Linked DNA regions of Homo sapiens: region 1 is linked to region 2. A link means that fine-mapping ties the variant in region 2 to the expression of a gene that starts in the linked region. Tissue or cell type: whole blood. Region 2 holds a variant in brackets; the other region holds the start of a gene. All regions are shown on one strand. Distances are between the middles of the regions.

The links. PIP is the estimated chance that this variant, and not a neighbour inherited with it, causes the effect.
Region 1: NAPRT starts here. The variant in region 2 is fine-mapped to the expression of NAPRT in whole blood (INTERVAL, PIP above 0.99).

The regions. Positions count from the first base shown.
Region 1 is chr8:143,573,392-143,581,391 of GRCh38, reverse strand. It overlaps NAPRT (nicotinate phosphoribosyltransferase), which reads left to right and starts at 3,062. Exons shown (of 13, transcript NM_145201.6): 1 at 3,062-3,299; 2 at 3,449-3,576; 3 at 3,653-3,735; 4 at 3,993-4,123; 5 at 4,215-4,330; 6 at 4,550-4,746; 7 at 4,820-4,960; 8 at 5,230-5,314; 9 at 5,690-5,770; 10 at 5,867-5,969; 11 at 6,047-6,201; 12 at 6,299-6,406; 13 at 6,492-6,607. The coding sequence starts at 3,074. The coding sequence ends at 6,554. It overlaps EEF1D (eukaryotic translation elongation factor 1 delta), which reads left to right. Exons shown (of 10, transcript NM_001130053.5): 6 at 64-163; 7 at 238-338; 8 at 665-886; 9 at 1,186-1,380; 10 at 1,562-1,664. The coding sequence ends at 1,600.
Region 2 is chr8:143,502,157-143,510,156 of GRCh38, reverse strand. It overlaps ZC3H3 (zinc finger CCCH-type containing 3), which reads left to right. Exons shown (of 12, transcript NM_015117.3): 4 at 2,258-2,411. SNORD149 (small nucleolar RNA, C/D box 149) reads left to right here and starts at 3,909; the gene lies at 3,909-3,972. The variant G/C (reference allele first, on the strand shown) is at 3,806.

The DNA of each region.
Region 1 (8,000 bases), 71 kb before region 2:
GCATGGCAGGGGGACCCTAGGAGCAGGCTGGGCACTGAGCCCTCCCCTCCTCCTGCCTTGCAGAGCTCAGGCCCCGGGGCCTCCAGCGGCACCAGCGGAGACCACGGTGAGCTCGTCGTCCGGATTGCCAGTCTGGAAGTGGAGAACCAGAGTCTGCGTGGCGGTGAGGCCCCGGGCCAGTGGGTTGGGGCTGTCCCTGGCCCCTGCCATCTAACCGTGCTCCCCTTGCCCCCCCAGTGGTACAGGAGCTGCAGCAGGCCATCTCCAAGCTGGAGGCCCGGCTGAACGTGCTGGAGAAGAGCTCGCCTGGCCACCGGGCCACGGCCCCACAGACCCAGGTGAATGCTCTCCCCACGCCTGACACTGCAGGGGACCACGTGGCCCTGCTGGCTTCCACGTCGCCCTGTGGGCTGGCCCCAGCAGCAGTGATGAGCTGGCAGCCAGGATACTGGAGTCCTCAGGTCCCCAGGAAGGTTTACAGTTAGCCCTGGGCAGGTGGAGGCAGTTTTTGTCTTTCCTGGGGCCCTGCATGTACACAGCTGCGGTACACAGGGGCTGCCCTTCCTCCAGTCAAAGGAGGGAGGAGGGCCAGGAGGTGGCCAGGCAGCTCTGGGCCCTGGTTGGGGCGTCTCAGCCGTGCCTCCTGTCCCTTCCCCTGTGGCAGCACGTATCTCCCATGCGCCAAGTGGAGCCCCCAGCCAAGAAGCCAGCCACACCAGCAGAGGATGACGAGGATGATGACATTGACCTGTTTGGCAGTGACAATGAGGAGGAGGACAAGGAGGCGGCACAGCTGCGGGAGGAGCGGCTACGGCAGTACGCGGAGAAGAAGGCCAAGAAGCCTGCACTGGTGGCCAAGTCCTCCATCCTGCTGGATGTCAAGCCTGTGAGTGGGCGGGGTGGGGCTTCAGGGGGCCAGGCACTGCCCTGGTGCCCGCCTAGCCGGCTCAGCCTGTGACCCTCCCCCTGCCCTCTGGGTTCTGGGGAGACTTTAAAGCCGAGTTTAGAAGTCTTGGGATAAACACAAACTTGGAGGCAGGAAGGTGTGAATTTGGATTGTTTTCTGTGGGCCCTTTAAGGAAACAGAATTGTGGACACACAGTGGTTGAGGGTAGGGTGCATGCAGGTACTTCCTGGGTGTTCTGAGGGTGGCTGACCCCAGCTTTTCCTCCCCTTTCCCCACAGTGGGATGATGAGACGGACATGGCCCAGCTGGAGGCCTGTGTGCGCTCTATCCAGCTGGACGGGCTGGTCTGGGGGGCTTCCAAGCTGGTGCCCGTGGGCTACGGTATCCGGAAGCTACAGATTCAGTGTGTGGTGGAGGACGACAAGGTGGGGACAGACTTGCTGGAGGAGGAGATCACCAAGTTTGAGGAGCACGTGAGTGAGCCGGCCGGGGAGAGGAGGGGAGAGGAGACTGGGGACCCTGGCCCATACCCTGCACTCCACCCCACGGCAGTGGGGAGCGAGTCCCAGAGTGAACCCCACCTCAGAGGAGGCTCCTGGCTCCGAGTGGGCTGTAGGGGAACAGCCCTGACCGTCACCCTCCGCCTCTCCTCAGGTGCAGAGTGTCGATATCGCAGCTTTCAACAAGATCTGAAGCCTGAGTGTGTGTACGTGCGCGCGTGCGTGAGGCCCTGCCACGATTAAAGACTGAGACCGGCCCTCTGGCTCCGTCCTGGTCATTTCCTGCTCGTACCTGGCCTGTCTCCCTCCCTGTCTCAGCCCCATCTCTGCCCTGCTGTTCCCACACAGTCATCCTGGCTGCTGCCACCCTCTGTGGCCATGTCACCTTGCCCCCAGCAGACCTCCGCCTGTCCCTCCATCTCCTGGCCACTCCCTCCCAAAGCTCTGGCCCTCCCTCTTCTTTCCATTGCAAAAGCAAGTCCAGTTCAGGGGGTTTAAAAAGCCAGAAACAGAAACTGTTAGGTCACTATCTGGAGAGGCCACCACCCCACCACTCTGCCTCCTGTTGGCATTGTCCCCATGGGAGCAAGCGTGCAAGCCTGGAATTGTCCAGGAAAGAAGTCCCAGTAGCACCCGGCCCTGCTGCCATGCCCTTTGTCATGTGCTGTCCCGGCCCTCCCCTCACCTCATTCATTCCTGGAATCCCTGCCCCTTGCTCCAGGGACTGTGCCCCTCCCATGATGTTCTGGGGTGGCCAGAACGTGGCTGCCTGGGCTCTGTGGAGCTGTGCCTCAGCATCCTGACAGCCGTATGTGGTCAGCATGGGTGGCCACACTCCCTCCCCTGGACCACCCGTGTTTGCATTGGGGTGAAAGAGGATGGGGTGTAATTACTTGATTACTTCTGGTCAGACTCTGTCCTCGGGGCCCCAAGCCACAGGGGAATGGATTCTCCCTGGGTAGTGGCCCCTGACTTTGCCCTCAAACCTTTAGAAAGTTTCCTGTGGGGCTTGGACTGCAGGACCCCATAAAAGCCACCACTGAGGGACACTGGGCCTTCATAGCCACAAAAGGTCTTTTGGTGCCAGCCGACAGTGGGCATGCGCCCCCCTGCCCCACGCCGCCCTTTCCTGGGTGCCAAGCTCTTTCCAAGCGACATTTGCGTCCATCTGGGCTGCCTCGTCCTAGCCTGGCTGCTCAAGCTCTAACTAAGGCAGCCTCTGGCCTCCCTCCCCAGGCCCAGGGCAGGAGCTGGCTGCTGGCCAGCGGTTGTCTTCTGGGTCGGTGGGGGTGGAGTCTGGCTGGTCTGTCCTCCACCCTTTCCGCCGCCTGGCAAGTCCTGAGCTGCACCTCATTGCCCGGCCAAAGGGCAGAGACACGAGCGACTGGGGGCACCTCTGGTGACCAAGACCGGGCTGCGCTCCAAAGAGGCCGTTGGGCCTGGAGTGGGGTTGGGGGGTCCGAGAGGAGTTGGGTGACATCCCCCACCCCATCCCGGGTCCAGCTGTTTCAGCCCCTCTCGGCGCGCCGATACTATTAGCCCCACCCGTCCTCCATCGAGTCCCGTGCCGCTCCCAAACGGCACGATAAGCCCCACAGGGAGTGCGCCATAGGCCGGGGCGCGTCACGGGGTCGGGGCGGGGCGGAGTCCGGACGTCGGGAGCAGGATGGCGGCGGAGCAGGACCCCGAGGCGCGCGCGGCGGCGCGGCCGCTGCTCACTGACCTCTACCAGGCCACCATGGCGTTGGGCTATTGGCGCGCGGGCCGGGCGCGGGACGCCGCCGAGTTCGAGCTCTTCTTCCGCCGCTGCCCGTTCGGCGGCGCCTTCGCCTTGGCCGCCGGCTTGCGCGACTGTGTGCGCTTCCTGCGCGCCTTCCGCCTGCGGGACGCCGGTAGTCCCCCGTCCGCGCGACGAGCCCCCCACGCCCGGCAGAAACCCCCACCTATGGCCGGTGGAAGTCCTTGTCCCCCCGTGGAACCCCCCATGTCCCACGACCGGTCTGTCCCCGCGCTGGTCTCAGCGCAGTTACCTCGTTTCCAGACGTGCAGTTCCTGGCCTCGGTGCTGCCCCCAGACACGGATCCTGCGTTCTTCGAGCACCTTCGGGCCCTCGACTGCTCCGAGGTGACGGTGCGAGCCCTGCCCGAGGGCTCCCTCGCCTTCCCCGGAGTGAGTAGGGGTAAGCGGGCGGCGCGGCGGCCACGGGGTGCTGGGCCGAGCGCGGAGCTGACTTCTCTCCCCGCAGGTGCCGCTCCTGCAGGTGTCCGGGCCGCTCCTGGTGGTGCAGCTGCTGGAGACACCGCTGCTCTGCCTGGTCAGCTACGCCAGGTGGGCTGCGGGCCACTGGCAGGGAGCGTGGGCATGGGATGGGCCCCCAGCGCCGGGGCTCCGTGCTGGACTGTGGCGGCGGGGCTGGCTGCCCAGGGGTCCCAGGACTGGCCTCCCGCCCCCACTCTTCAGGGTGTAAGGAGGGGCTGGGTGAGGGTGGAGCTCCCAGGTTGGAAGTTCCAGGCCCCAGGTAACCGCCGTCTTGGGTGGCCTAGTGATCCTCACCCTGGGACCCCCTGACTCTTGGCTCCCCACAGCCTGGTGGCCACCAACGCAGCGCGGCTTCGCTTGATCGCAGGGCCAGAGAAGCGGCTGCTAGAGATGGGCCTGAGGCGGGCTCAGGGCCCCGATGGGGGCCTGACAGCCTCCACCTACAGCTACCTGGGCGGTGAGTGTCTGGTGCGGGGCAAGGCAAGGGCCGGGAAGGAGGAGCCCCATCTTGGCCCGAGGTCCCCCAATCCCACCGCCTTCCTCCCCAGGCTTCGACAGCAGCAGCAACGTGCTAGCGGGCCAGCTGCGAGGTGTGCCGGTGGCCGGGACCCTGGCCCACTCCTTCGTCACTTCCTTTTCAGGCAGCGAGGTGCCCCCTGACCCGGTCAGTCCCTCCTCTAAACCCTGCTGTCTCCAGGCGACAGGCCCCAAGCCAGCCCTTGCCCTGGCGAGAGGTGTGCCACCCAGGCAGGTCACCCCAGTGCTGTCCCAGGAAGCTGGCACGGGCTGCATTACCTTTGCTCTCAAACTAGGGTGTCCCTGGCTGCTCCCAGGCCTCATCCTGCATTCCTGGCCCCCATTCTTCACCGACTCTGTTCCACAGATGTTGGCGCCAGCAGCTGGTGAGGGCCCTGGGGTGGACCTGGCGGCCAAAGCCCAGGTGTGGCTGGAGCAGGTGTGTGCCCACCTGGGGCTGGGGGTGCAGGAGCCGCATCCAGGCGAGCGGGCAGCCTTTGTGGCCTATGCCTTGGCTTTTCCCCGGGCCTTCCAGGGCCTCCTGGACACCTACAGCGTGTGGAGGTGAGCCCGGGCACTTTAGGGGTGGGCTCAGCAGAACCTCAGCAGCCTCTGACTCCCTTATCTATTTCTGCAGGAGTGGTCTCCCCAACTTCCTAGCAGTCGCCCTGGCCCTGGGAGAGCTGGGCTACCGGGCAGTGGGCGTGAGGCTGGACAGTGGTGACCTGCTACAGCAGGCTCAGGAGATCCGCAAGGTCTTCCGAGCTGCTGCAGCCCAGTGAGTTTCCCGGGGAGGAGGTGTGCCTGGTGGGAGATCCCCGGGGTTTGGGAATGGGCAGGGAAGGACAGTGAGGTACTCTGCTGAAGTTTCAGCGGTGATACTGCAGGCCGTGGCAGGGAAGTAAGTGGTGGGGCTCCCTAGGAGCTCCCAAGCAGAAGGTGAGCACAGGTGTCCTTGACTGAGGCGGGGCGGGGAGCAGGGGGACACCAGGGTGAATCAGGAAGACCCGAGGGGTGGCCCCCACCCTTTCTCCACCCACGCGGCAGGTTCCAGGTGCCCTGGCTGGAGTCAGTCCTCATCGTAGTCAGCAACAACATTGACGAGGAGGCGCTGGCCCGACTGGCCCAGGAGGTGGGGTGGATGAGTGGGTAGGCGGAGGGTGGCTGGGGGGCTCTGGGGGCCCCTGCAGGTTCTGGCTGGGCTCATTGCCACCTCCTTCCCCGCCCAGGGCACTGCCACCCCCTTCCCCACCCAGGGCACTGCCACCTCCTTCCCCCACCCAGGGCACTGCCACCCCCTTCCCCACCCAGGGCACTGCCACCCCCTTCACCCAGGGCAGTGCCACCTCCTTCCCCACCTAGGGCACTGGCACCTCCTTCCCCACCCAGGGCACTGCCACCCCCTTCCCCACCCAGGGCAGTGCCACCTCCTTCCCCACCCAGGGCAGTGCCACCCCCTTCCCCACCCAGGGCAGCTGGGCTCACGGCCACCCCCTTCCCCACCCAGGGCAGTGAGGTGAATGTCATTGGCATTGGCACCAGTGTGGTCACCTGCCCCCAACAGCCTTCCCTGGGTGGCGTCTATAAGGTAGGGACAGTGTCGGGGGCCCAGGTGGGGGCAGGTCTGAGGGATGGTGCTGGGTGGGGGATAAGGACCAGCCAGCTCAACGCCCTCTTCCTGCAGCTGGTGGCCGTGGGGGGCCAGCCACGAATGAAGCTGACCGAGGACCCCGAGAAGCAGACGTTGCCTGGGAGCAAGGCTGCTTTCCGGCTCCTGGGCTCTGACGGTGAGGCCCTCCCATCCCCCCTGCTGTCCACCTTCAAAGCACCAGGGCCCCCGCTTATTCTTGCCCCGTCCACACAGGGTCTCCACTCATGGACATGCTGCAGTTAGCAGAAGAGCCAGTGCCACAGGCTGGGCAGGAGCTGAGGGTGTGGCCTCCAGGGGCCCAGGAGCCCTGCACCGTGAGGCCAGCCCAGGTGGAGCCACTACTGCGGCTCTGCCTCCAGCAGGGACAGGTGGCTGCCCCACCGCCCTCATCCTGACCCCCAGCCCCGGTAGAGCCCTGACTGGGAGCTAGCCCCAAGCTTCTCTTTCCTTACCTCCTCCCTGCAGCTGTGTGAGCCGCTCCCATCCCTGGCAGAGTCTAGAGCCTTGGCCCAGCTGTCCCTGAGCCGACTCAGCCCTGAGCACAGGCGGCTGCGGAGCCCTGCACAGTACCAGGTTGGGGGGAGGCCCACCCTGTCATTCTGCCCTGTGCGCCCCCGCCCTCACCCTGCCCACCGCTCCTGTCCTCTGCTCCCTGCAGGTGGTGCTGTCCGAGAGGCTGCAGGCCCTGGTGAACAGTCTGTGTGCGGGGCAGTCCCCCTGAGACTCGGAGCGGGGCTGACTGGAAACAACACGAATCACTCACTTTTCCCCACAGCTTGTCCTGTGTTGTTTGTGTCGTTTGTTCACCCAGCCCACGGGCTGCGCCTCCCGGGCTGCGGCTGGGCTGGAGTCGGGAATCTGAGCTCGAGGTAGCAGGAAGATTTGCATCCCAGTGAAAGCACAGGCCCTGCCGGCGTGGGAGACAGCCCTGTGCTGAAGCCCGAAGGGCAGTGAGGAGTTCCCCGGCTTTGGGTAGGCTGTGGGGAGTCAGATCCCACACTAGAACTACAAAGCCACAGGCAGGGAGGGCTTTGGTGTCTGCCTTGGAGTTGAGGGAGTTGCTGCAGACCTTTCCTTGCTAGAGGCAGGCTGGGGACAGGACAGGGTTGGGGGTAGTGCCAGGTAAGAGGGTCCAGCCGTGGCCCTGGGCTCCCACGCCTGCCTAGGCACTGCCCCCCAGGCTCAGGGTCAGTGAAGACGTCTCAAACTCCCCAAGTCAAAAGGGAGTGCTCAGGTGTCTCCTGCCACTGCTGCTGCCAACCCAGCACCACCCTGGCATCTGGCGTCAGGGACACAGCTCCTGACCCAGCAGCCCACGGAAGGAGAGGAAGAATGGGGAAGAAGTTGAAGCTCCAGGAGATGACTCAGCCCCAGACACCTGGCCAGAGTGGCACTGCACGTGGCTGTGCTGGGCTGGCCCTGCCTCTGCACCAGCAAGTTCCTGATCTCAGGGTTCCGCCAGTTTGGGCAACGTGAGCTTCAAGAGGAACTGCTTGGGGGAGAGGTTCTAGGCTTGGCAGGAAGTGGAGGCTGGGGGCCTGGGCCTCTCTTGTCGAAGCAGCCTGAGGTGGCACAGACAGGCAAGGGTGTGGGGGGAATGCTGACCGCCTGGGGCACTTCCGTCTGCCCAGGCATTCCACCAGACCAGCTCACCTGGCTCCCCGGGCTTCAGGGTGGGCAGCACCACTGTGTGGTTGGCTGAGGGTGGAGGGTGGGGACTTGGAGCAGAGGCCCAGTCCAGCCAGCCCCGGGGAGTACGAGCTAGGAGAGAGATACAGACTCACACACATTGGACAGAACACACCACACCCCAGGCACCCCCAGGGCACCCGCGCACTCCGAGGGGCCCAGCCAGAGTGGCTGTATTCTTCCGTTCTTGCACTGCTGTAAAGAAATACCTGAGACTGGGTAATTTCTAAGGAAGAGAGGTTTAATTGGCCTGTGGTTCTGCAGGTACAGGAAGCATGGCTGGGGAGGCTTCAGGAAACTTACCATCTTGGTGGAAGCGGAAGCGGGCAGGTCTTACATGGCCGGAGGAAGGGGTGGGGCGGTGCCACGCACTTCCAGACAACCAGATCTTGAGAAGTCTTATCATGGGAACAGCACCAAAGGGGGAAGTTGCCCCCAGGATCCAATCACTTCCCACCAGGCCCCACCTCCAGCACTG
Region 2 (8,000 bases):
GTTTTCAGGAGTGACACTTGGGCACTAAGAAGTAACACGCAGTAAGGCAAAGAAGCCTGACCTGACCACTGCCAGCACTGCGCAGGAGTGTGATCATGGTGCCGCCGCCCGCCAGGCCCTGCCTGCCCCAAGCTGCCCCTCCTGGGCAGAAGTGTTCTAGAATGCAGAGTCCAGTCCTGTGTGCAGTCGGGGCTGGGAATTCCTAGAGGACTTGGCATGTGCTGGACCTGGGAGGGAGGGCGAGCTCTGGTTCCCAAGGTTAGAAGTGATTTTAGCCGAAGGGAGGCTGTGCATTTGGCGACGGGAATGGAGCTGGGCCAGGTCTGGGGGCTCCTGTACTTAGAATTTGGGGAAAGAGGTTGATGGGGAGGGGAACATGAACCCCCGGGGCCCGAGGGTGGCCCAGTGTCCCGAGTGTGGCCCAGTGTCCCTCCTGCCTTGCTTGGCCCCACCTGGCCTCTGAGCAGGACTGTACCCTAGCTTTGTCATGCTGTGGCTCCAAGGGGCCAGCATCGCCCCAGGCTCTGCGTCCCAGAGCAGCAGGCATTGGGCGGCCTGGGAGGCTTGTGGGAAGCCATGGTGGGAAGCAGGCTGCAGGCTGGCAAGTGGGCCATTTGGGCACTCTGGGGTTGGGGGTGGGCTGGTGGCAGCCCTGAGGCCCGGCCCCATGGCTGGCAGTGCTCCAGTGGGTGCCCTGACTGCCCAGGTGCCAAGGCTGGCCCCCAGCTTGGCCCAGGTGGGGCAGGAGCAGCCGGGCAGCCCATGCTCTCCTCAGGCAGAAGCAAGGAGCCTGCAGCAGGGCTGGAAGGTGGTGAGGTCACCTCGGGGTTATTGATAACTTAAGGACTTCTTACGTTCTCCAGCGCTTAGTTGAAACAAGCTATTATTGATTTTTTTGCTGGTTTCTCCTTGTTTGTAAGACCTTGAAAATACAATCGGCAGACTCTCTGATGTGGACTCTGGGGGACTCTGGGGAAGGCTTTGATGTCATGTTGGGGCCAAGTGTTCCTGACTTGCTCCTGTGCAGGCTGACAGGTGCCTGAGTAGAGGCTGCAGCTTGGATGGTGCTGGGGGAACGCCTGAGGGAGGGGCTCTTTGCTGACATCTGGACAGGGCAGTGTGGGCAGGAGAGTGAGCGAGTCTGTGGAGAGATGGGCTAGAAGCTCGGCCTCAAGGAGGGGCCCTGGCTGCTCAAGGTCCGTTGCGTTTAGGGCTCTGGAAAAGAATTTGGGAAATGGTAACAGTTACTGGTCCTGTCCAAGGAGCAGGGTGCCTCGAGGGCTGTTTGGCTGTGGGGGCCAAGAGGGTGTGTCCTGGGCAGTCAGGGGTCCCGGGCACAGGGGAAGCTGGGCACTGACTGGAAGGAAGTGAGGTCCCCTGGGCTGGGCTGGGTGGGGTCCTCCTGTGGGCGACCCTGAAGGGGGTGGAGGGGGGCGGGGGCCTCTTGCAGCAGCCCCTGAGCCTTGGGCTGCCAGGGAAGCTGTTGGGAAGGCGGGCCTGTGCCCACTGCTGAGTTAGCTTTAATGATCTGGGCAGTCAGAGCTGTACATGATGCAAGCTGGGCAATTAGACGCAACCCTCGAAGCTGTGGGTAAATTGCCAGCTATCAAGTGGAAGGGAACTCGGGCAAAAGATTCCTGTTAATTGCATGAAACATTCAGCAAGAAAAAAGCCGTCGTGTCTATCACCCTGCAAAATGTTATGAAAACAGTGACTAAGTACATAAGTCTGTCTGGGCACAGCGGTGAGGAGGTGCCGCTTGAGGAGGTGAGTGCTCCAGCGCCCCTCCCCTGTGCAGGGCACAGGCCAGGAGCCTCCCAGCCCCGCCCCTCTGGCCTGGGTGGAGGTGGCCCATCTGCCTTCCTCACTGCTCTGCTGGAAGTCAGTCAGCCACCTCGAGTCCCCCTGTTGCGGATACTGTCTAGGGGACTCCAAGGCATCCCCGGCTGCCAGACCCCTGGCTTCTCCTGGTTTTCCTGTGGTGTGGGCATTCCCTTGTTTCTCCAGATGGCTGGAGGGTGTGCGGGGCTGGTGCCCGCCTCTCAGAGGCTGCACTGGCTAGCTCCTGAAGCGTCGGCTGCCAGGCGCCCTGGGGATGTGTGTGCCACATGGGTTGAGGGTTTTATCCACGGGGCGATGGAGGGTCTTCAAGCTCCGGCGGAGGCGGTGGGCAGAGCTGGCACTGTGGGTGGCCTCTCTGACCCTACCCTTGCCGGCCTTCCCTGACCCATGTCTGTGCCCTGGGTTTTCTCTACAGCGTCCAGCCTGCATGCCGTGCGGACTGCACCCACCAGCAAGGTGATCAAGACCCGCTACCGCATTGTCAAGAAGACGCCGGCCTCGCCTCTCAGCGCCCCGCCCTTCCCCCTGTCTCTGCCCTCCTGGCGGGCCCGGCGGCTCTCACTATCCAGGTAGGAAGGCTTCCTGCAGGCTCCTGCAGGCCTGGGAACTGGGCTGTCTGGCCCTGCCCTGAGGGCTGCAGGGTAGAATCCAAGGGCCAGGGGGAGCTGAGCACATCCCAGAACTGCTTGGTGTTGGGCTCGTTGGCTGGGGACCAGCCTGATTTTTCTGTGTCTTTAGCAATTTCTGCACCAAATAGGAGGCCAGCTTGTGTTTACCACATACACGTGAAGACGGACGGACACACATGCACACACATGCTCTGCTGTTCTCAGCAAGCCTATTAGCTGGTGAGGGCTCTGTGCCATGAAAGCTTCTGCTGCCCAGACGGTCAGGGCCCACGCCATGTGCTGTCTGAGCATCTCTCGGGGAGAAGCTTCTGGTGGGAGAGGCTGGGCCTTCAGTGGTCTGTCTGGAAGCTGTCAATGTATGATTGTCAAGGCGGTGATGTGAGCTACTCCTTGCCCTGCTGCTGGCTGCCTGTCCGTGTTCTGGCCCCCACTCGCACTCTGACCTCGATGCAGGCTGGGAGGGCGGCTCTGTCGGCAGGGAACAGCTTTTGCCCTCCTGGGGCCGCTATCCCGGGAGGCTTTGCCACCTGCTCAGTCAAGGTTGCTCAGCCTCTGGGCCTCAGGAGGCCTGGCTCTAGGAGGTTGGCCCCTTCCTTTGCTGTGGTGGTGGTGCCCCATCTCCAGGTTGGGAGAGGGTAATAGCTCTGGCAGGCAGATGGGAAGCAGGCAGTGGCAGACCCCTCCCTCTGTCTTCTGACCCTCCCCGCGGGAATCTGCTCCTGGGGGAGTGGCGTGGGCCAGAGATGGTGGGCAGGGCCTCAGGGCGAGCAGCCACGGCCCAGGGCACGGCCACCCACCGGACCGTAGCTGCCTGGTGGTTCCCTGCTGCTAGCCAGAGGTTTCCAGGCCTGAGGCTAACCCCAGGGGATCCACCCACCAGTATGGACAGCCCTACCCAGCTCTGGAGCCTCGTGGCAGGTCAGCCAGCTGGCGAGCCCACCAGGTGGTGTCCTGCTGCCTCCCGTATCACCAGGCCACACTCAGCTTGGCCCTGCTGCTGAGTTTTCTGGAGGCAATAGCTGGAGTATATTTTAAATTAATTTTACTGCACTTTTTGTAATATTTTTGTTTTAAATAGATTTATAAGCATCTCGGGGGCTATTTCTGCAAATTTATGAAGATAATTTTTATTCTCTCGATAAGGTTAAATTTACACCTGCTATTTCCATATTAATTCACATTGCTAAGTGGATCTAATTTTCTTCCGTTCTTCTATCTGGTGAGCATGGCCTTTCCTAATGCAATTTCCCCCACACTAAATCACTGTGATCGGGAGTCATGATCGAGCTAAATTAACTTAAATTAATTTACTTAATAAGAGCCCCGGATCATCG[G/C]GAATGAGGTTCAGATTTATGGATTCTCCGCTCCTGCTTCCCGTCCTGTGGTCGTCGTCAGCCCGACGTCGAGGGTCCACCTCTCCCAGGGGTGCGGCTCGGGGCCAAGTGATGATTTTCCTCAGGGCGGACCCAGCAGGGCCTCTCCTTCTGGATTCTGAAGGCCAAGAAGGCGTCTGGTTTGGGTCCGGCTGGTCTGGTTCCTGTAGCTGGGCCTGCCCAGGAGGGCCCTGATGGTGTTGTTGCACAGAAACAAGTGCCCATGCCCTGGGGCTGAGGAGGCCGGGAGGAGGAGGAGGTGGCAGCCGGCCCAGCGCCCAGGGCCTCCTGTCGGCGCCATGTGGCTGAGAGCAGCGGGTCAGCTGATAGGCTCCCTCCAAGTTCCCTGTCCTTCCAAAGTGAAGCCTGGCCAGCTGCCCTGCAGGGAGCGGCCGTGACTCTCTGAGTGCCCTGGTGTAGGGGCTGCACCACAGGCATGGGTGGGCAGGAGGTGGAGCAGGCATCGCCTTTGATGGATCAAGGGCCCCAGCACCAGAAGCCTGAATTCAGCCCACCCCTGGAGGCCCTGGCTGTGGTTGGTGGCCATGGGCTCCAGGCCTCAGTGTCTTCTCCGTGTGTGAAGGCCAGGCTGAGTCCGCCCCAGGATGCACATGTGGCTGAGGGGGTGTGTGAGGGGCCCTCCTTGCTTTCCTGACCGCCTCACCCCAGTCCTGTTCCACTCCTTGCCAGGCGTCTGGGACCCTTCGGGACACGAACCCTGGGCTTGTGGATAGGGTGTGGGAGTGGAGTGGGGAGGGTGCTGAGCTGAGGGGCACGACTCTTAGGAAGTCCTGGGAAGAATGGCCACCAGTGGGCTGGGCCTGCCTCGCCCAGGGTCACCTGCCACCTGCGTCCCAGCATGGCTGCCTGGCCTGCTGTTGCCTGTTTGCGTGCCTGGGCTCGGGGTTGTTTAGGCAGAAAGGGCGTCTGGGCCAGCGGCTGGTCTAGCCTGGCCCATGCGCCATCTCCGGTGCTGCATCAGAGCCAGGGCTGCCTGCATGTGGCTGGACCCTCAGCCCTCCCTCGGCAGGCCCAGGCCACCATGGACTAAGGGCTGCCATGGAGAGGAAGAAGGCAGGCTGTCCTGCCAGTTGGCTGGCTGGAGCCTGAGACCAGAGCTCTCCTTGGGCCCCAGCTCCCTCTCCCATCCCTGGAGGGGCTGGCGGGCAAGCCCCAGCAGTCCTGGAAGCCACGGTGGTCAGAGTTGGCAGGGGCTGGTGGACACGCGGGAGGGGAGGGAGGCAGGGTGACTAGTGGCTGAGGGACAGCGCCGGTGTGGGATGCCCCAGCCGACCCCTCACTGTGATTGGAGATCTGGTCACCCTGAGAGGAAGTCATCTAGGCCTCTTGCCCTCAGAGCCTTAGCATCTTGCTCTGTTGCTGAAGCAAACCCGCGAGTTCCGAGCATGGAGCCGGGCCTGCTCTCTGTGAAGCTGCCAGCTCCTGGGAGATGGACGAGGCCAACAGCACTGCTCTGGGAGGAGAGGGAGCCGCTGGCAGAGGCTCTGCGAAGGGACGGCAGTGGGGAGTACAGTGAGGCCCAGGGGGCTCTGAGTGTTGAGGGAAGGCCCTGGGGGTCTGTGTGTGAAGGCCAGGCTGACCCTGCCCCAGGATGCACATGAAGGTCCCAGGTGCTGGGAGTGGCTGAGCATCTTGGGTAGGGTGTAGTTGGGGGCAGCGCAGTGCAGCGTGAACCTGACAGCCCGTCCCTGCCTGCTTGTACCATGCGAAATGGGTAGGGTCTCTAGGCTTGATTGTGGTGGGGTGTTCAGGACAGGGCCTGAGCTGGAACCCCAAAGACGGAGGAGGGGGCAGGACCTCTACCACCCGTCCTGAGAGGAATGGGACTGGGCCCTGCCCAAGGTGGGGACAAGAAACAGTAACACAGGCTGCCGCAGTGAAGCTTGCACAGCTCTGCTGCTGACAACAGCCCTCACCTTGTCCTCTCTCTGACCCTGTCCCTGGGACCTCCCCTGCCCTCTTTTCCCGTCCCCTCCCCTTGGCTGTGATGCTCATGGCGGGGACTGCACCGCCCTGAGGAGGCACGAGAAGGGGCCCCTCTCCTGGCCATGAGCCCCCAGGACCCCTCTGCAGTTCCTCTCAGCTTTCGGTTGGAGAGCCCCAGGCCCTGAGCTATTGGCCCTAGCTCTGCCCTGGGCACTGGGGAGGGCTCAGGGTGATTAGGCCTGTTCCCTCCTCTGGGAAGCTCTAGAAACTCCCCTTCCCTGCAGCCCGAGGGAAGGAGGGTAGGCAAGTGAGTGCCCGGCCTGAGTCTAGGCCTCTGCCCTGTCCCAGGGGGTGATTTGGCACACGCGCCCTCTCTCTCCCCCTCCTAATTTAAGTAGAAACTTACTGTCGGCCTGGTGGTCATGTTGGGCCCATGTGGAAGGCTGGAGGACAGCGTCAGGGCCCGTTGATGGCTGGGTTTGTAATAGGGGCTGGGGCCTCTCCTCCCTGTCAGCGGCTTTCTCTGGACCTGAACATGGAGGAGGCGGTGGGGAGCCAGCTGGGTGCTGGAGGAGGTAGGTGGTCGGGAGATGGCTGGGTGCTGGAGGAGGTGGTCGGGGGATGGCTGGGTGCTGGAGGGGATGGTGGTGGAGCCGGCTGGGTGCTGGGGGAGGTGGTGGTGGAGACAGTTGGGTGCTGGAGGAGGTGGTGGTGGAGACAGTTGGGTGCTGGAGGAGGTGGTGGTGGAGCCGGCTGGGTGCTGGGGGAGGTGGTGGTGGAGCCGGCTGGGTGCTGGGGGAGGTGTTGGGGAGATGGCTGGGTGCTGGAGGAGGTGGTCGGGGGATGGCTGGGTGCTGGGGGAGGTGGTCGGGAGATGGCTGGGTGCTGACCAGTGGCCTCAGGTTTGTGGCCGGCCAGTGCTCGTCGTTGTCAGATGGAAGGCAGAGGCTGCTGGGCAGTAGCTTCTGGGGCTTCTGTGTGCTGCCAGCCAGGGTCTCTGAGGATGGGCACACCATTGAGGCACACGCCAGACATCATGTGTGGAGACTGGGGTGGGGCAGAGGGTGGGAGGAGAAAAGGAGCAGTGCCTGTATGCCAAGGGCAGAACGGGACTCCTGCCTCAACGGGTGGCATCCACGGTGCCACCTGTGCTCCCATCAGAGGCCGCGTTGCCCTGGCCTGCAGATGCCCGGCCATGTGGCTGCTTGGGGCGGGGCAACAGCTGACGGGGGCATGCTGGCGGTGTGCTGGCCATGTGCCACCTCTCCCCAGAAGCTGAGGCATGGGACTGGGTTGTTCTGCTGAGCGTGGTGCCCGTCGCATCTGCCAAATACACAGGACGGGGCTGTTGCTCTGGCTCGGGGACCCTGGGAGCTTACTGTACTGCTGCCTTACGCATACCTCGGCCATGCCACAGTGGTCCCTGAGAGCCGGCCTTGGCCAGCCCTCCCCCGGGCCCCAGGACTGCTGCCTTGAAGTGAAGCCTGTCCCAGAGGGCCTGGAATGCAGGGGTGCGAGGCAGAAGGTCAGTGAAGGGTTTTGGAGGAGTCACCCTGAAGGCTGAGGCTCTGCTGAGGGGATTTAATTTTTTTGTTGTTCTGAGATTTGTAGATTTGCCGGTGCCCTCACCAGCTCCAGCAAGTTCATTAATCTGAACTGAAGCTGAAATGTGACTTATATCCCTAACTGCTTGTCACTTTTTTTCTCTTTCCAAATTCATTTGACATGAAAGTGCGAAATAAACAGAAGCTGCTGTGCTTAAGCAGATGAATCGGAGGCTTTTCCATCTGACTACAAATGGTCCTGTCACGAGGCTGCCTCTCACTGGGCTGCCTTATTTTATTTTATTTTAGTTTGTGTCTGTGCGGTAAATCTTAAGTAATCTGTGCAGTTTTGACGAGAGTTAGGCCAGGATTTTGAAGGGCTCTGAAACGCTTCTCCAAAGTGGCGTCTCATTAAAGAGGAATTCAGCCTGGGGACGGGAGGGGTCCTCACTGCGATGCTGCGCTCCCCACGCGTGTCTCCTTAATGAGCAGGTGTGCCTGCACAGCCTCCTGGGACGCCAGCCACCCTGCCCCACCTCCTGCCCGTCTTCTGGTTTGGGCACTGTCTTCGTCGGCTGGGGCCGTGTCACACAGTAGCACAGACTGGGGCTTCAGCATCAGACGCTGACTTCTCACAGTCCTGGGCCGGACGTTTGAGACCAGGT